Linked DNA regions of Homo sapiens: region 2 is linked to region 1. Evidence: fine-mapped expression QTL. A gene starts in region 1. The other region holds a variant in brackets. All regions are shown on one strand. Distances are between the middles of the regions.

Region 1 (9,617 bases):
CTGGCTTAGGATGTTTTTATTTTTACTCATGTTTTTCTATTGTTATATGTTATAAATGCTAATTATTGAAAATGCAAAAATTAAAAATATAAAAATAAATTCAATTTATCCCACCAGTCATATACAAATGTGAATAATGGGATATAGCTCTTCAAACTTAAAAAAGTTTGCTTTTATTAGCCAGGCTTTATATATATATATGTGTGTGTGTATATATATATACACACACACACACACACACACACACACATATATATATTTATATACATATGTTTATTTATAAATTTATATATAAATATATATATAAAATATATATATTTGTATATATTTATATATATCTCTCTTTATATATCTTTATATATATGTAAAGATAGCTTTAAATATCAAAGTGAAAGTATTATATATATATATATTCTCATATTTAAATGGTCCTCCTGGGCTTTGTGGCTCACGCCTGTAATCTCAGTCTTTTGGGAGGCTGAGGTGGGAGGATGGTTTGAGGCCAGGAGTTCAAGACCTGCCTGGACAAAGTGAGATACCCATCTCTATAAAAAATTTAAAAAAATTAGCCAGGTATAGTACTGCAAGCCTGTAGTGCCAGCCCAGGAGTTCAAGGTTACAGTGAGCTCTGATTGCACTACTGCACTCCAGCCTGGTGACAGAGTGTCTGTCTCAATAAATAAATAAATAAATAAATAAAATTTTTAAAATGATCCCATAATATTCTATTATATAAATATACTATAATATATTAACCATTTCGTATTAAAGATTAGAACACTTCTGGTTTTTATCAGTTAAAAATACCACTATGTTTAATCTTTTGGCCCATTTTAATTTACTCACAATATAAAAAATGTAATTGCTAGATCTGAAACTATGCATACCTTAAAAGCACTTGATGTTATTTTAAAACAACGATAATAAAGATGTTTCAGATTAACATCCCACGAACAGCATATCAGAGTACATGAGTTTATCACTGCTAACTTTTAGCTGGAAGCTTGTTCAATAGACAATGAACAGTGGTATCAAAAGCCTGGGCTGGACTCCCGGCTACTAGGGAGGCTGTATTCCTGGCTACGTGGGAGGCTGACATAGGAGTATCACTGCAGGCCAGGAGTTCCAGGCTGCAGTGAGCTATGATCCAGCCATTGCACTCTATACACTCTAGCCTGGGCAACAGAGGGAGACTCTGTCTCAAAAAAATAAATAAATAAAAAAATCCTAGTTGCATATGTACCCCTTTATTATTTATGCTATTGAAAAAAATTGATCAGTTTTCCCCTAGCAAATTATAGCAATTATTTTATAAAATATGTTTTTGTAGGAGTAGATTAGCTATCAATTTCAAGTCACATATCAACTGAGATTAATAAACAGTTCTCTGAATGTGAAAAATATTACAGCTTATTTTTCACATATTTGCAAATACTTTTGGAGTCCAGAAAACAGGTTAGAATAGGTAGAATTTTAACTCTAACAGTAGTGTTATTTCAATTTTCTGACTCTTATGTCCACACATTTCCTACTTTTTCAGTCCCAAAAGTCCGTATTATCCCAGCATTCACAACTTCATCTGATGCCAGTTATCCAAGATGCTGGATGCAAACAATAACCAAAGAATTTCCTGGCAAGTCAATTTGGCTCATCATAAACTCTAGTAGCCTTGGCCTCATGCTATGCTGCAACATCTGCAATCCTAGCACATTGATGAAAGAATGATTAAAGAAGAAACCACCACCATCAACAATCACCATGTCTCTTCGGCTCACTGTAATTCATCTGAACATCTTATTCTTTCTTCTTTGCTACATAACTTCCTATTAATAATCACGAACAGTGTGACAACTTTATTCTGTTCTCAATATTGATAGAAAAGAGATAAAAAGAGTGCTGATTGTGATATGGACATCTTTAATAAGTGAAATTTCTGATAAGTAAGCATTTCATGTATTGTTAAGTTATAAAATACTTTCTATATTTATATCCTCATTAATTTATTAAAATGGTATTAATGCATTTTTTAATTGAACACGCATCTGATAACTTGTTAAATTTAAAAATAATTTAACTTCACATTAATAGGTAGAAATGTGAGTCATTAGCAAAAAGAAGAGATTCTAGGACTTCAGGAAAAAAATGCTTAAGAAATAACACTAAACAAAAAATATTTGATGTTTTATGTTCATTAACTTAAGACATAATACACACAATTATGGATACATTACAATATTATCTATGTTGTGAACTTCAAGAGTTATTGATTGCTTAAATATATTTTAGTCAATATTTACCTTTGAGATCAAAATAATTAATATCACTGTACATCTATCCTCTTTATAAAATTATGAATCTGAAAACTTAACTTCTTTAGGGTATCTTATCGTTTCATTAGGGTATCATATAATTTCTCATCTAAAATCTACCATGGGTTAAAATTTTGCTTTGCTTGTATTTTTCACCAAATTCCCCCAAAGAAAGAATCTAGCTAAGTGACAAAAATATTTAAAACTGATTTGTAAAAAATTGCTACAATTATATGAGGAAAAATGTTCTTGAGTTTATGGAGTTTTATTTAAATTGTTTTAGTAAAGACTGTTGCTTATATTTTTTACCATGGTTTAAAGGGGCTGTGTGCCATGTGTTGAGCTACTATTATCTGACCACAGACGTCAATCTTGTTATTTCCTTGATTTGGTCCATTGTCTTCATTGTACACAAACAAATCGTGTGCATGTTTTTATGTACACGAAACAGTATTTTTCTTTAAGTAATGCTTGCTTATGATCCTTCATTTCTTGTTTTCTCCTATTCATTTATCTGACCTATACTACCTATTTGGAAAATCGCTTTTAGACTTAAACCTGAAAATTAAAATATTTTCATGTATTCATTGCTCCCATTCATGCAGAATTTTGGGGTAGTTCTCTTTTTCTGATCAACCTGGCTATCAAATTTATTCTTTACTTCTGTTATGTAGGACTTTTCTCCAATAGACTCAATCCCATGGGTGAAAGTTTCCGTGTCTTACCAGCTGTGAGACTACTTGGATCACCTAATCTCATTTCCTCAGTTTTCTCATCATTAACATGGGGATAATAATTACACCAACATCAGGGTTGAAGTGTCAGCATTAAGTAAAATAGTTAAGGTAAAAACGTCACATAATGCTTTACACATAGCAAATCTTCAGGAAAAACTAGCAAGGCTTTCTGTCAAAATTGCTTTTCTTGAATCTTTGAATGCAGGGAAGATACATTTGGGCTTATTGATACACTGAACCTAACTATAATATTAAAACTTTTTATGAGGTTAGTAAACTTTCAAGGCACCTTATCAAGGTTACTTTGAATATCCTTCCTTCAGGAATACTTAGTACTGAAGTCACACAAAAGCACAGATCTTGGGAGACACTAACCACTTGCATCTTTTAAGGTCATAGTAGCTATTCCAAGAAATGAGAAATGCAAACAATAGGGCACCAAAACCAATATTGATGGCATGGCCTTTTGTTGTGCAAAACAATAAGTATAAAAGAAAAATATAAACCAAATCTAGTTTTCATGCAATGCCATGGTTCAATGTAATTGTGTTAAAATAAAAAGTATTAATATGCCAAGACATCAACACGTGGCCAAATGTGAATCTCCTTTGAGCTTGAAGTCCAAGTCAAACCACCATCATTACCTTTTCTGATTAACCCTCCTTAGATCAAAAAATGATTTTCATTGTTGTCATCAGAACTTCATGAACTTTACAGCTTCAATGAACTTTACAGCTGTTCATTCTTTCAGAGATGTGTAATCAATATTATTAAAGAACTATGAGAAAGATGGCTGCAATTTAAGGTGGAGAATACAAAGAATTTTGCTTTCTGTATTCTCAATCATGTAACTTAGCTATGTTGGGAGAAGATAACACAATTATGCCCATGCTGACCAGCGTCCCAGGTTTTCTTTGACAAACCAGATTTAAATTCTGTCTTTCTTCTCTTTAGATATAGTTAGACAATTTTATTCCACCTTTGATTCAGAAAATATTGGCATTGTGTTGATTTATGTAAAGCTATGAGTACTTTGAGGAGGAGAACGAAGTAACTTTTTTGTTGAGAAAAGAAGAATTTAATCTTGAGTGCCTGGCTCTCCTAGGACACTGGGTATGATTTAGATGACAGTAGTGTGTGTGTGTGTGTGTGTGTGTGTGTGTGTGTGTGTTGTGGTGGGGTGAGGTGGGGGGCGGATAAATATTTCCAGAGGTGGGATTTCTTTAGAATGGAATGACAGGTAGAAAAATCAGAGAGGCATGAGGTAATTTAGGGGAAAAATGAGTTTAACATTGTAGTATAGAATAAAAAATATATTTAAACCATTTGTAGTAGAAGGCTTTAAATTCTAGGCTGAAAAATTTGGTTATTTTGTGGCCAATAGTAAATAATTGGAGATAGATGAACAGGGTAGTCACATAGACATGCAACCAACGGAAGGGAAGAAGGCTTGAAGATTGTCTTCTCCAAATTCCTCATTTTACTGATGAGGATACTGAAGCCTGTAGAAGTAAAGGAACGAGCTCAAAGCCCCATTAAACTCATATTAGTTTTACTACATATTTCTGGGCTTTAGATATCGTAGTTGGTATTCTGCTTAAATATTTTTAAGTAACTCAATTATAATTGTAGGGGAGAGGGGAGCTTACATTTTGAATGGTCCTCAAATAGAAACATAAATTTTAACTTTCCATCTCACCCGTGAGGCTTTTTGCCAAACTGAGAAACTGATTCACTGCTCTTCCTCTAAATTTGCTTCATCCATTCGGAGCACATTATAATAAAAAGAACCTGCTTTCAGACTTCTGGTGCCAAAACATTTCAGGAAAAAAAGAAATCAAAGATGAGCTTTCACCTCTTTACAAAATTGCATCACTGCTGCTTTATTCTTTCATCTTTATTGCAAATATTTAAACAAAAAACAAATGTCACCAGCTAAAGATAGTGAGGAATTTATTGTGGAGACAAACAAGGCTCTAGATATGTCAAAACTGGTGAGCTGACTCACCTTTATTAGGTGTGAACGGAAGCCCAAGCTTTACAGTGGTTACTATACATGAAATTAAATGAGATATCTTTCTTCTATAATCAGACCTTTCTGTAAGTGCTTTCTCTGCAGCCTTTTGTTTTTAAATGCCTGTGTACTAAAATTGTCCTTCAAATGTATCTCTTTGAAAGAATGAATAAATCGAGGGAATATACTAAAGCAAGAAAAGACATAATAGAGGTGAAGCATAGAAAGTTGATTGTTTTAACTGTTTTTTTTTTCACTGTTTGTAAATCTCCCAATGCTATAGGGCACAATCAATTAAAATAATTAATTTTTCAAAACCCTGAATTTATTTGACCGAGGCTAATTTCACTGGAATGTATGTCGTGTATCTGCATATCGTCCAATTTCTAAAATACTAAAACATTTTATCAATGAAATAAATGAATTAAATCGCCACCTATGAAAGTACCTGGCACACTACAAATCTCAATAGTCAAATTCTTTGACTCCTTGAAATCTCAAACAGAGCTACCGCCTCTTTATTTACTCTACAATTTACTTCTGAAGAAAACATTGAGTAATTATCCTATTCCAGCCATCAAAGTATGGGAAGAACAGAAAGAGTCAGCAGCGGTAAGCGGTATGGGTGTTTAAGAAACTAGCCACGGACCAGCAGAGCCTGCGAATGCGCGGCGATGTGACGACAAGGTTGTTGATGCCACAGCCTGTGAGGGACAGCAGGCAAGATGCCAAACGGAGGGACCCGCGTCTCTAAGGGCCGCCGGCTGAGCTGGGGCTGATCTCCCTTCCGCCTCCCGGGAACCCCAGTCCTCGCCAGCGTCGTCAGGATTCCTTGCCCTAATTATCCCGGGAGGAAGACGCGCCTTTCCCGGAGACCGCTAGGCAACACTCACCAAGGCAGCCTCCAGATTACTTCCCTCCGTGGGTGTGTGACTTCGTCGAAGCAACTCACACTTACAGTAGATTCTCACTGGCGAGGCTGCGAGCAGCAGAGGGCGGGGGAGCTGGGAAGAGGAGGAGGGAAGGAGGGTGGGAGGCGCTGAGCTGGGAGGCAGAGGAGACGCCGGAGCTCCAGACACAGCAGGAGCGCGCCTTGGCGGTGCAGTTTCAACCTCGACTTCGCAGCCGCGCACACACCGCCTGCTCCCCGAGCAGCGGGAACCGCAGCAGCTCCTGGGCCGCCGCAGCGCAGCTCCGCGCTCCTACCGGCCGGCAGCCGTCAGTCCCTCCCCTCTTCAGCACTCAGCCCGCAGCTATTTCCTTCTGCCAGTCTCTTTGAACTCTGGATCTTTGCTTTTGCTCGCTGCTCTCCTGTTTTTCATTCTCCACATTTTCTCAAGTCCTCTTTCTTTATCCTTAGCCACCCTGCTTTTTTCCTCCTTTTTTAAAAAATCGGAGATTTCGTCTTAAAATGATTTGCCTTCCTTACCTTCGTCCATTTCAACACTGAAGGCTGCAAAGAACCTTCACCTTTCCCCTAGTGGTATTTAAAAATTCTCAATCCGTAAAAAGTCTTTTTGAAAGGCAAAGGAACAGGACCCAGGACCCTCTCGACACCCTTGATCCGAGTCCAGATCTGCACTAGCAACCAGAACTAATATTTCATTTAACCCCACCAAAGGGGGAGGCGAGAGGAGCCAGAAGCAAACTTCAGCTGTCTCAGCCGGATCCGTGGTTCCTACATTTGGAGGAGCCGCGTGCCAGAAGGCGTAGGACCCCAAGGGGGGACAAGGAGGACTCCCGAGTCTCCCTTCGCCGCTCTGCGAGGCCGAAGCGGTGGACTGAGCCGCTCGGGACAGCGGCACCGGAGGAGGCTCGGAGAAGATGCGGGGCTCGGGGCCCCGGGGTGCGGGACGCCGGCGGCCCCCAAGCGGCGGCGGCGACACCCCCATCACCCCAGCGTCCCTGGCCGGCTGCTACTCTGCACCTCGACGGGCTCCCCTCTGGACGTGCCTTCTCCTGTGCGCCGCACTCCGGACCCTCCTGGCCAGCCCCAGCAACGAAGGTAGGGAGATGGGGGTGGGGACCGTGGCGACCTGGGGCGGAGGGGCTAGGCGGGGCCTGGGAGTTCAGGTCTCAGCGCGCTGGACGCTGCTGCTGCAGACTAAATCGCAGTCTCATCTCAAATTGGTATTTGTCGTCCCCTTCCACTGGCCTTTTCGCTCCCCTCTGCGGTTTTTGGTTGCATTGTTTGACGTTAGCTGCGGAGTGCTGGGCAAGGAACATGCGTGTGGACAGAGGCTGGTTGGGGGGCTGGGAAGGTGGAAAACCTTGGGGGAAAGGAGGTCGAGGCCTCCTTTGGGGAATGGAGGCCCGTTCCAGGGGGATGGGTGCGGCTGGGCCTCACTTAAGGCGCGTGGGGAAGTGACATTTCGGGCTTGAAGGAGTGGGAACTGTTGGAAGCTCAGTGACAAGGATCTCTGGAGCAGTGGGGCTTTTAGAAACCGTTATTTGAGGCCAGTGATGGGAAACGTTGTGGGGGTGGCTGGATGCTTTTATTTTTGGGGAAAGTGCCTGCTGGGAGCTGTTATTTAGGGCATCACCAGCTGCTATTCTGGGGTGGGTGGCAGGAGCTTTTATTTCTCGTGGGAGGGGTATAGCGAAGGACAGAAGGCGCCCCACACAGTTGGGTGCCCTTCTTCTTGGGGGAGTTCATTGTCACACTCAAGCCAAGGTGGAAGAAGGCGAGAAGGTGGGATGCCGCGGCAGGAGGGGTGAGGGGGAGTGTCGCTGCTAGGAAGTTGCCGCTAAAACCCACCTGGGCATGTCTTAAAGACGGAAAAGACCTGCTCTGGCCAGCACCTGATCCAGGAGTACCCAGTCCCCCTCCCTACCCCCAATCCTGTGCTCCAGACCCAGAATACTGTCCCTGCCTTTTTCTGGGAGAGTAGAGCTGGCGCGGGAGCAACACCTGTGTCGCTCTTCGTGCTCCCGGAACAGTGCTCAGCCCCTCTGTCCGCCTGCCTCTTGGACCTGAGACCTCTGCCTTTGGGTCCCCTCCAGCAGCGCTTGCTCCTCTCCCACACCCGGACTGAGCTCGGGTCTCAGCCCAAGGGCGCATTACTCGCGGAGGGGCGGGAACAGTATCTCAGATCCAGATCTGTCAGCTCCACCATGAAAACATAGAAAAACCTACCCACTTTGGCTAGAATGGTGAGGTTTCGGTTTGGGGCTGTGGATGCGACGCGTGAGGCTCAAAACCTTGCAGAAATTCCTTCCACTCCTGGGCACGGGACACTAGACCGGAAAGATGAAGCAGCAGTGGTGGAGTCGTGTGTGTCCTCGTGACTTGCATGGGTTCAGTCTCCGCTGTAGGAGAAGGCGCTGAGCTGATATCCCAGCAATGCCAGCTCTAAAGGAAGGGTGTGAAAGCAGGGCAGATAGAGGCTCCCCTGCCCTCATCCCATGAACTTTCTCTTTAACCTCTAAGTTTATTTTTTAAACGCTAATTAAAGGCTTATGTGTATTTATCTGCATTTATCTATATACATATATATAGCTATCTCTCATGCTTAAGCCAAACAATTGGGTATTTTCCCTTTCTGATAAAGTTGAAAAAATGTTTTTGAGAGTCGTAGACCTTTTATTAACACCTTATGTTAAATTCATTCTGTTAGACGTCTGGAGGATTATAACAGCTTTGGAGGAGGCTCTTTTATTAACTGTCTTATTCCACCGAAAGGGGCATCCTCGTTTGAATTTGAAGAGGTTTAACAGTAATATCATTCATCCTTTCGTGTTTCCGTTAGATTTCAAGTCCTCTCTCCAGGTGTGATGGAAGGGGAGAACTTAGGTGGAGATGAAAGGGAGTCGCTCTTGGTTAGAAAATTGGAAGAATTCAATTCTCAGGGAGAGTGACACTGAATGGGAACAAGAGCCAAGACTGTGCAGGGAGGAAGAGGCAGAAGGAAAGAGAAGGAAGGAGAAATAGCGCCGGTCTCCTAAGGTGTTGAAGGCAGAGCTGGAATCTTGTGGAACACAGCCTGGCTGTTGTTACAGATTTAACACCCACAGATTGTATTGTCTTACCTCATCTAGTCCGTCACACAGCAAAACTTGGACTACACGGAGATGGGGCTTGGGGATCTAATCAAAAATGAGATGTACCTTACCACCTGGTGCTCTGAAAAAAGCCTGCTGTTTGGGGCACATTTTGTAATATGTCACTATTATACTTAATTGGAAATAAAATTGTGTAAATATCTATGTCATTATCTAATTCATCCTATCTCAGCTGAGCAGTTTTCCATCTTTCCACCTAGTATCCTAGATCTTTATTTCTGCTCTGTGAAATATAGATTCTTCTCTTCTTGTTTCTCCATGCTATTGCTATAAATTGAGCAGCAGAGTGTATTAAAATATTTATTTATGCTAAAATATTCATAAAATGTTTGGGCTTTTTTAGAGATTCAGATTAGAGTTTTCCAATTTGTTTGTTTGCTTCTGGAGGGACTTTGGAAGGTCAGGGGGCAGAAAGATTTCATGTATATGCTGAACTCATTAATCACTTTTTCTCATATAATTTGACTTCTGCAATCTATAGATGCTTAGTGATTT
Region 2 (8,000 bases), 140 kb after region 1:
TAGGCTTATGTATTCATTAGAACTAGTTTTGCTTAATACAAGTGAAAGCCCAAAGACCTAGGTAGGTGAAATTTATTTATTTTTTCATGTAAAAGAAGCCTGAGAGTTACTAAGCACAAGACTGATATGGTACCTCTTTATCATCAGATTCCTGGATCATTGTCATTCTGCAAAGACATCTCAGTATATCCTCTTTATGATCAGATTCCTGGATCATGGTCATTCTGCAAAGACATCTCAGTATATCCTCTTTATGATCAGATTCCTGGATCATTGTCATTCTGCAAAGACATCTCAGTATATCCTCTTTATCATCAGATTCCTGGATCATTGTCATTCTGCAAAGACATCTCAGTATATCCTCTTTATGATCAGATTCCTGGATCATGGTCATTCTGCAAAGACATCTCAGTATATCCTCTTTATGATCAGATTCCTGGATCATGGTCATTCTGCAAAGACATCTCAGTATATAGCTTTCATTCTTAAAGAAACTCCTGTTCTAGCCCTGCATGACTTCTGGATCACCAAACATCAACTCCACTTTCCAGGGAGGAAGGAGGAAAGGGTAAAAATGAAAAAAAAGGCCGGGCGCGGTGGCTCACGCCTGTAATCCCAGCACTTTGGGAGGCCGAGGCGGGTGGATCATGAGGTCAGGAGATCGAGACCATCCTGGCTAACAAGGTGAAACCCCGTCTCTACTAAAAATACAAAAAATTAGCCGGGCGCGGTGGCGGGCGCCTGTAGTCCCAGCTACTCGGGAGGCTGAGGCAGGAGAATGGCGTGAACCCGGGAAGCGGAGCTTGCAGTGAGCCGAGATTGCGCCACTGCAGTCCGCAGTCCGGCCTGGGCGACAGAGCGAGACTCCGTCTCAAAAAAATAAAAAAATAAAAAAAATAAAAAAAATAAAAAAAATAAAAAAAAATCCATCCAGCTAAATCAGCACCCTTTAAAGCAAATTCCTGGAAGCAACATACGACTATTATACTTTCACTTATATCTCATTGAATTCTCTCCACCTCTATTCTGCAAGGAGAGGTGATAAATGTCAGCTTATTGTTGGACACACTGTTACATCCAATATAGAGATTCTGTTCCTAAGCAAAAAGGAAAGAATGGGTAGTGGATAGGCATCTGGCTGTATTCACCATAGTACTATTATCCATTTCAATTCATAATACCTATATTAAGAAGCTGAGGCTTAGGAGAGGTCAGGTTAGTTCTATAAAATCAGAAACAAGAAAATTATCAGAAGTCTGTCATTCAGAAATTGCCTTACACCCCATTTTCTTCGCTATCCACATAAGCTATGATGCTAATATAGTTTCTCAATTTATGCTGGATTTCTACAATTTATTCAACAATTTCTATAATTTACACTGAATTTCTAACTGACCATACATTCAAAGAATCCTTAGTTCTCTGTTGACCATATTATTCCTTTGTGCTCCTGTACAAACACACACAACAAACACATCATAAACACGCACACACACACACACACACAAATGTACACCTGTTTACATACATATATACGATAGCTTAGTATTTTCTGCCAATTGGATTTTAAGTTTATTTGTCTTATTTTTAAAGTCTTTAATCTTTATTTTCAGAATCAACTGCTCATAGTAACAGCCGTTAAATCTATGCTCTGGTAATCTCTTTATTTCACCTGAGCCAAGATTATGTTTTTTCTATTACTGGGCATAGCTCTAATCCCAGTAGTTCCATATATTTTTTCTATAAAAGTTGTTCTTGAGTTTCCTCCCCAAAATAGTTTGAACTAAATGTAATAATCCTATTTTTAAGACATCTGTGATAGATTTTCCCCAGCTAGATTATAATAATTTTCAAAACTTATATTATCTCTGTATTCACCTGGCACCTGTCACAACAAAGGACACATAGTTATGTTTTTTAAAATTGTTGATAGATATTGTCATTGCTTTCTCAAATATCTTATTTGTATATATTAGTATAACCTTAGGTATCAATGTTTCCAATGTGTATAATTTCGATATTATTTTAAATTAGAAAATATTGCTTTCTAATGGCCAATAACAACACCCACCAGAACTTTGTAAGAATGGATCATTGAGTTATTTGTAGACTATTAATTATAATTCCAATCATACCAATTTAATGTATTGAGTTCTACCTAGATATATAGTAATAGAGCAAGAGTTATATACGTTCATGTCATTGTTCCAGTTTCATATATGCAAGCACACTTATGTGATTCAGGGTTGAAAACTGAAACCATGACATTTATTAATAAGCAATTGTGTAGATTTATTATGTATCTAACATATGCACAATGAAAATTATATGAGTATGTATGGTGAAATTTCCAGGGGTTTTTACCGTCTTTCTGTCTCTCCCTCTTGGTCTTTCTTTTTTTGTTGTTTTTTTCTTTCTTTCTCTGAAGGATGTACATAACTGAATATGTTGTATTTGTGTGTGTGCATATAATATGCATTTGTGTGTGTGCATATAATATGCATACGTATGCACACAGATAAACATAGGTATACATATATGTTTATGAGACTCAAAGGAAACAATAAATTTATTTATATTAAGGTTAGTAGATCAGCATAATCATTAATTTGTATAACTTGATGATGCAAAAATTAGGCTTTGAGAAGCCATTCCAAACATTAGACCACTGTTTGGGGATTTGAAAGATTGTGGATTTTTGCAAATGTGCTTGTATTCTTTTATTTTTTTTCATAAAAGTTTCTTGAGCACCAATTGTATATCTGATATTCTTTGAATTGCGTTTATTATGTCTTATACTATAGTTGTTTTAAAAGAAAATTTATTACATTCACTATGCAACCAATTTTTGAAACTGTGAGATGTTTTAATTGAACATAGTTTTTAAACACTCTAAAACCTCAGAAATAACTTCAATATTACCTCAGTGCTTTCCTAGACCATGACTTGCATAGCTGTTTATCACTGACATTGTGGGCAGTGGGTTAATTGTAATTGCATGGTCACCTGGACTATCCTATAATTTGAAGTAGAGTCCTTCTGCTGTGTCAGCCTTGACAGTATATTATTTCCGAGCATTAATGCCAGAATGGTCTTTAAATTGGTTATGGAACGGGGAAAGAAGTGATTTAAGTGCTCGATTTAGTGCACTCCTCTTGCTGTCCGCTTCAGGCCACTTTCCTAGGAATGGCAGAATGTGAGCAGAATTAAAATTCAGATTTAACCAAAGTTGGAAAAAAAATAACATGAAACAAAGGGAAATGAAAGTAATCTCAACTCTACCTATTTGTTGACAAGTACATAGTATGCAAATCACTGGATATCTTGAACTACGTATTTCCCTCTTGGAAATTCGTGAATTAAACAATAAAAGATGGATTTTAATAAACAA[G/T]TGCCTGTACACATTGAATTCTCTACGGATTTTTTTAAGCAACAGGGAAAACTAACGACTTTTTTTTTCTCTTAAGGATAGGAGGAGGGCGGAGGAAGAAGCGAATTAAATATATTTCTTGAGTGCACAAAATGTACTTCAGTGGAAACACTACACTCTTTAAGAAACATATTTTTGTCTTTGCAAAAAATATTACTTAAATTAAGGCACATTATATTTCAGTTTAATTTTAGATTTGTTAGGCTACATTTAGAAGGTGCTCATTTCTTCTGTGATGTTTTGACTCAGAGCACCTATGGTTTTGCCGACGTGTGATGCTTAGCTGAGTTCCCCTTTTATAATTATATTTTGCAAACATCTACAGCAAGCTTTTTCTCTCTCATTATGTAAGAAATGGGTTAGGAAACATTTTGTTATCTAACATTTTCTGGTCAAATTGTTGATAGATTTTATTTCAAGCTGACCATACTTTAAAATTCCAGCCCTATAATAAAACAAAATGTCTGGTAATATTAAACTCTTAAATATTCATTTATTTAACCAAAATGTTTATCCTTAGCAAACTACCACTGGATCAGAAAACCAAATACTGCATGTTCTCACTTATAAGTGGGAGCTAAATGATGAGAACAAACGGACACGTAGAGGGGAACAACACTCACTGGGGCCTTTCGGAGAGTGGAGAATGGGAGGAGGGAGAGAATCAGGAAAAACAATTAGTGGACACCGGGCTTAATACCTAAGTGATGAAATGACCTGTACGATAGCCCTCCATGACACAAGTTTACCTGTGTAACAAACCTGCACTTGAACCCCTGCACTTAAAATAAAAGTTAAAAAATAATATTAATAAAGATACCCAGAACTTTACTTCCTAGTATGTTCCAGTAGCCGGCAGTTATTATGCTCAGATTTTTCTACCAAATCATAGGAGTTAGTGGTTGAAAATATAGATCTAATTTAAAAAAGAAATGCTTAAGACATTTTTCATTCTTCTTGCATTTTAAAAGTAGAGACTCTACTTCTTATTCTGTCATAAACCTTTCCAAACGTAAACATTATCCTGAAGTTATGACTTTTTGTACTCCATGTATTTGCTCTGTGTGTGTCTATCGCTAATTCAGAACATATTATTGTTTTGTTGGTTTCAAACTTTATGGAATTGACAAATATTTCACGTATAACTTGACAACTTTTACTGTCAGCATTATTTTTCATCGTTTGTCACTTTGGTGAATGTAGAACTAATTTAATTTCATTGCAATGTAGTATTCTATTATAGGTTCTTTCTAATTTTTTCGCTATTGCAAGTAATAACACAATAAGCATTTTAATATATGGCTCAACATATATGTGAATGTTAGTATAGTAAATATGCAGAAAGGTAAAATTTAGGCAGATACTGCCAAATGTCTTCCCAAAGTGTGTTTGTCCTAAGCACTATATACAAATTCTCTTTTTATCACTTTTCCACAAACACTGGGCAATATGAATATTTTAAATGATTTTTAGTCTGATTTATTTGAAATGGTAACTACATTTACACTTACCCATTTAGAGGAAAGAATGAGGATCTCTTTTATGTTTAGTAGCATTAGATTTTTTTATTTTCTAAAATTTCTGTTAATGTGATTTGGAAATTTATCACTAAGATCAATTGCCTTTTATTGAAAATAAAAAAGCAGATAAAAAGGAAGAAAATGAGGGAGATGCTGCAGTTTTCTAAGAAGGTAGACGTGAGACTGTAGAAACCTTGTAGCCATTCCATGCAGTTGTTATATGAGTGATATAATCTACACATATGCAAAGTTTGGCTCTCATGACATTTTGGTGACCTTAAGTTGATGTCAGAGATCAGGCTTAATTTATTGCTCTAAATGATTTGAGCTCATGTAGATACTTACTATAACAAACAATGGAAATTTACTAAATAGGAAATTGCTTGGCCATTAACTTATCTTATTTTACACCCTAATATTCTAAACCTATGAAATAAAAAATATCTGATAAAACACAAGAAATAAAACTATTTTGAGACCATGATAATTCAATGAAATCAAATTTTTAATTTTTTGTAAAGACAGATTTAAATTTTATCATGAGCCTAATATATAGCCTTTTATATATGAGGCTGGAACATTTTCACACAATGTTTTGTGCCTCTTGCAATTTAATTATAGCCAGCATAAAAGGATTCTAGACCTTGAACTATTTGTGGTTGGATACTCTGTCTTGTTGCTTTTTGGGTTCCTGGTATTTGGCATAGTCACGTTATGTCAATCATATGTACTGAAAAGTCTGGGACAATTATAGTCCTTTCCCTTTATATCCATGTAGTATCAATAGTGACCCTTTTTACTATTAGAATTGTCCCAACAGACATCAATTTATCTGATTTGATAAATGAAACATTGAAAACAATATTTGATATATGCAAAACAGTAATACCTACCATCAATTGAATAACATGTGCCCGGTATTGGGCTAAATACTGATAGGATTTATTTCAATCATAAGATGAAATTGACAGCAAGGAAACTGTTATTCAGAGAGTGTAATTTGGGCTAAGTAACTGACAGAATCATTAAAGGAAATGTTCATCTCTTTATAATCAGCGCCTGAGACAGCGACCCCTACCAAAAGATTTTTAAAAGTCTTTGTTCATTGTTTGAGAAACAGAAATACAGATTCTGAAAAAATCCCATGGTACTTGTTTGAAGGAAAGAAATAGAAACATTTGATAAGCTATAAATTTTGTTATTCTTATACCACTCCTAGATCTGTACATTCATGGTTTATTCATGCCAGGGGGCTTTTCTTTGAGAAAATGATGAGTCTTTGTTTTCAGTAAGGTTCTTGTGTTTTTATTTCTTTATGTTTTTCATTTGAGAAAGTCTGTTGGTTTAAATGTGAACACTTTAAGGCAGAAATCACTGCTCTTTTGAGTCTAGTAAATAGCTTTCCAATGGTTCCAATGGGTGCAGTAGGTTACTTAAATGGGCCGCAGATGTGTATCTGTACAATTTAAGAGCAGGAAGAGACTTGTAGCAAACATTGATCCCCACTGTAGACAGGGGAAAAAAATACATTGTATGAAAATGTTCCAGCCTCATATATAAAAGGCTATATATTAGATTCATGATAAAATTTAAATCTGTCTTTAAAAATTTTGTTATCATTTCATGGTCCTGGGACAAAATAATTAAAGACTTGTGAATGAATGAATGAAATTATATTAAATTATTTCTCTTTTATAGCAACAGTCATAGAGGGAACTTTAAAAATAAATTATAGTATTTCCTGCCAAATGCCACTCCTTTAATATAGCTTTTAATATTATTAAAAAGAGATAACTAGTTAATAGTTAATAATCTTTCAGTAGATGGAAAATTGAAGAATTATAAGTTTTAATATATCTGTTATTACCTTCAAATACAGGGTTTTCTTAAGGCATGAGATATACACCATAAGACTATACATGAAATTTAAAAGATGATAGAATATGGTAGATATTTCTAAGAAAGGAAAACAATCAGACACTGACTCACAAAAAGATGTGACTTTTTAATGATACGTGTCATTATGGAACAGAGCAGATCTTTCTTTGAAGGATGAGATACTTGTAAACACAAAACTCAGGAGCCCATCCTTTGGTTTGTAGAAACAACTACTAGATCTGCCATATTTACTTATATACTCAGGTTTCAGCTGCCATACAATCTGTTATTTTTCTTGGAAAAATTATTGGTGTCAGTACTCTAAAAACTTCTTCATTCATATGGGAAATGTCCAGGATTTTATTCAAAATTTAAACGTACTGAAATGGCACAGTTTATAAAAATCATAAAGTGTGCTATGTATGCACTTGCAAATATTTAACTTCCTTCATCTAGAAGCTATTTAATAATACTTCCTTTCTCTAGGAGTTATTTAATAATACTTCATTTGACTAATTTAAGTTATATTTTTCTGTTTCTAAACAGGGATGTTGGAATACCATCCAACATTAATCTGGTCTTCTAGGAACTTATAGTTTGGAGAGAGAAAACATAGAATATTGATAAGAACTAAACAATGTGATATGTAAGTTGGTATGTAAATGTACAGACTATGAAGAGCATAAGAATGTGTTTGTTAGAGTATAAAAATATAAGGCAACAATAAAGGATATTATATGAACAATTTGGAAGAAACACATTTTTGTCTACATAGTCATCTCTGGCTAGTTAGACAAAGCACAGTATCTTTTTTACTTTGTAGACTTTGTCTATAGACTTATTCTCCCTTTATTCGGTCACTTTGAAACAGTATACCTTTTAAAAAATTGTACCCATACATGTTTACATTATAGTGCTCTAAATTCTCTGTAAAAATCTCATTCCTCTTGTTTGATTACTTAATAACTGTAGCCAATCAGGAATATAGTAAAAGAAAAAATATAATGAAGTATATGGTGAAGCAATGTTGCCATTAGTAAAATTTTTACATATTTTCAACTGCTTGGAAGGAGAGACCAAGTCGTTCTTCTAGTTCATTGTTTTGAATTACTTCTAGGATTTTCATCATTTGATATTTACATCTAAGCTTTCAAAGAGCTTTTATGGACCTG

What was found. PIP is the estimated chance that this variant, and not a neighbour inherited with it, causes the effect.
Region 2: its variant is fine-mapped to the expression of EPHA5 in tibial nerve (GTEx, PIP above 0.99).

What each region holds. Positions count from the first base shown.
Region 1 is chr4:65,667,010-65,676,626 of GRCh38, reverse strand. EPHA5 (EPH receptor A5) reads left to right here and starts at 6,138. Exons shown (of 17, transcript NM_001281766.3): 1 at 6,138-7,065. The coding sequence starts at 6,885. It overlaps EPHA5-AS1 (EPHA5 antisense RNA 1), which reads right to left and starts at 6,666. Exons shown (of 4, transcript NR_034138.1): 1 at 5,954-6,666; 2 at 4,746-4,851. RefSeq lists an enhancer at 7,989-8,520.
Region 2 is chr4:65,523,922-65,531,921 of GRCh38, reverse strand. The region is part of intron 3 of EPHA5 (EPH receptor A5); the gene reads left to right. Among named protein-coding and RNA genes, the nearest start is that of EPHA5-AS1, 140 kb to the left of the region's middle. The variant G/T (reference allele first, on the strand shown) is at 3,392.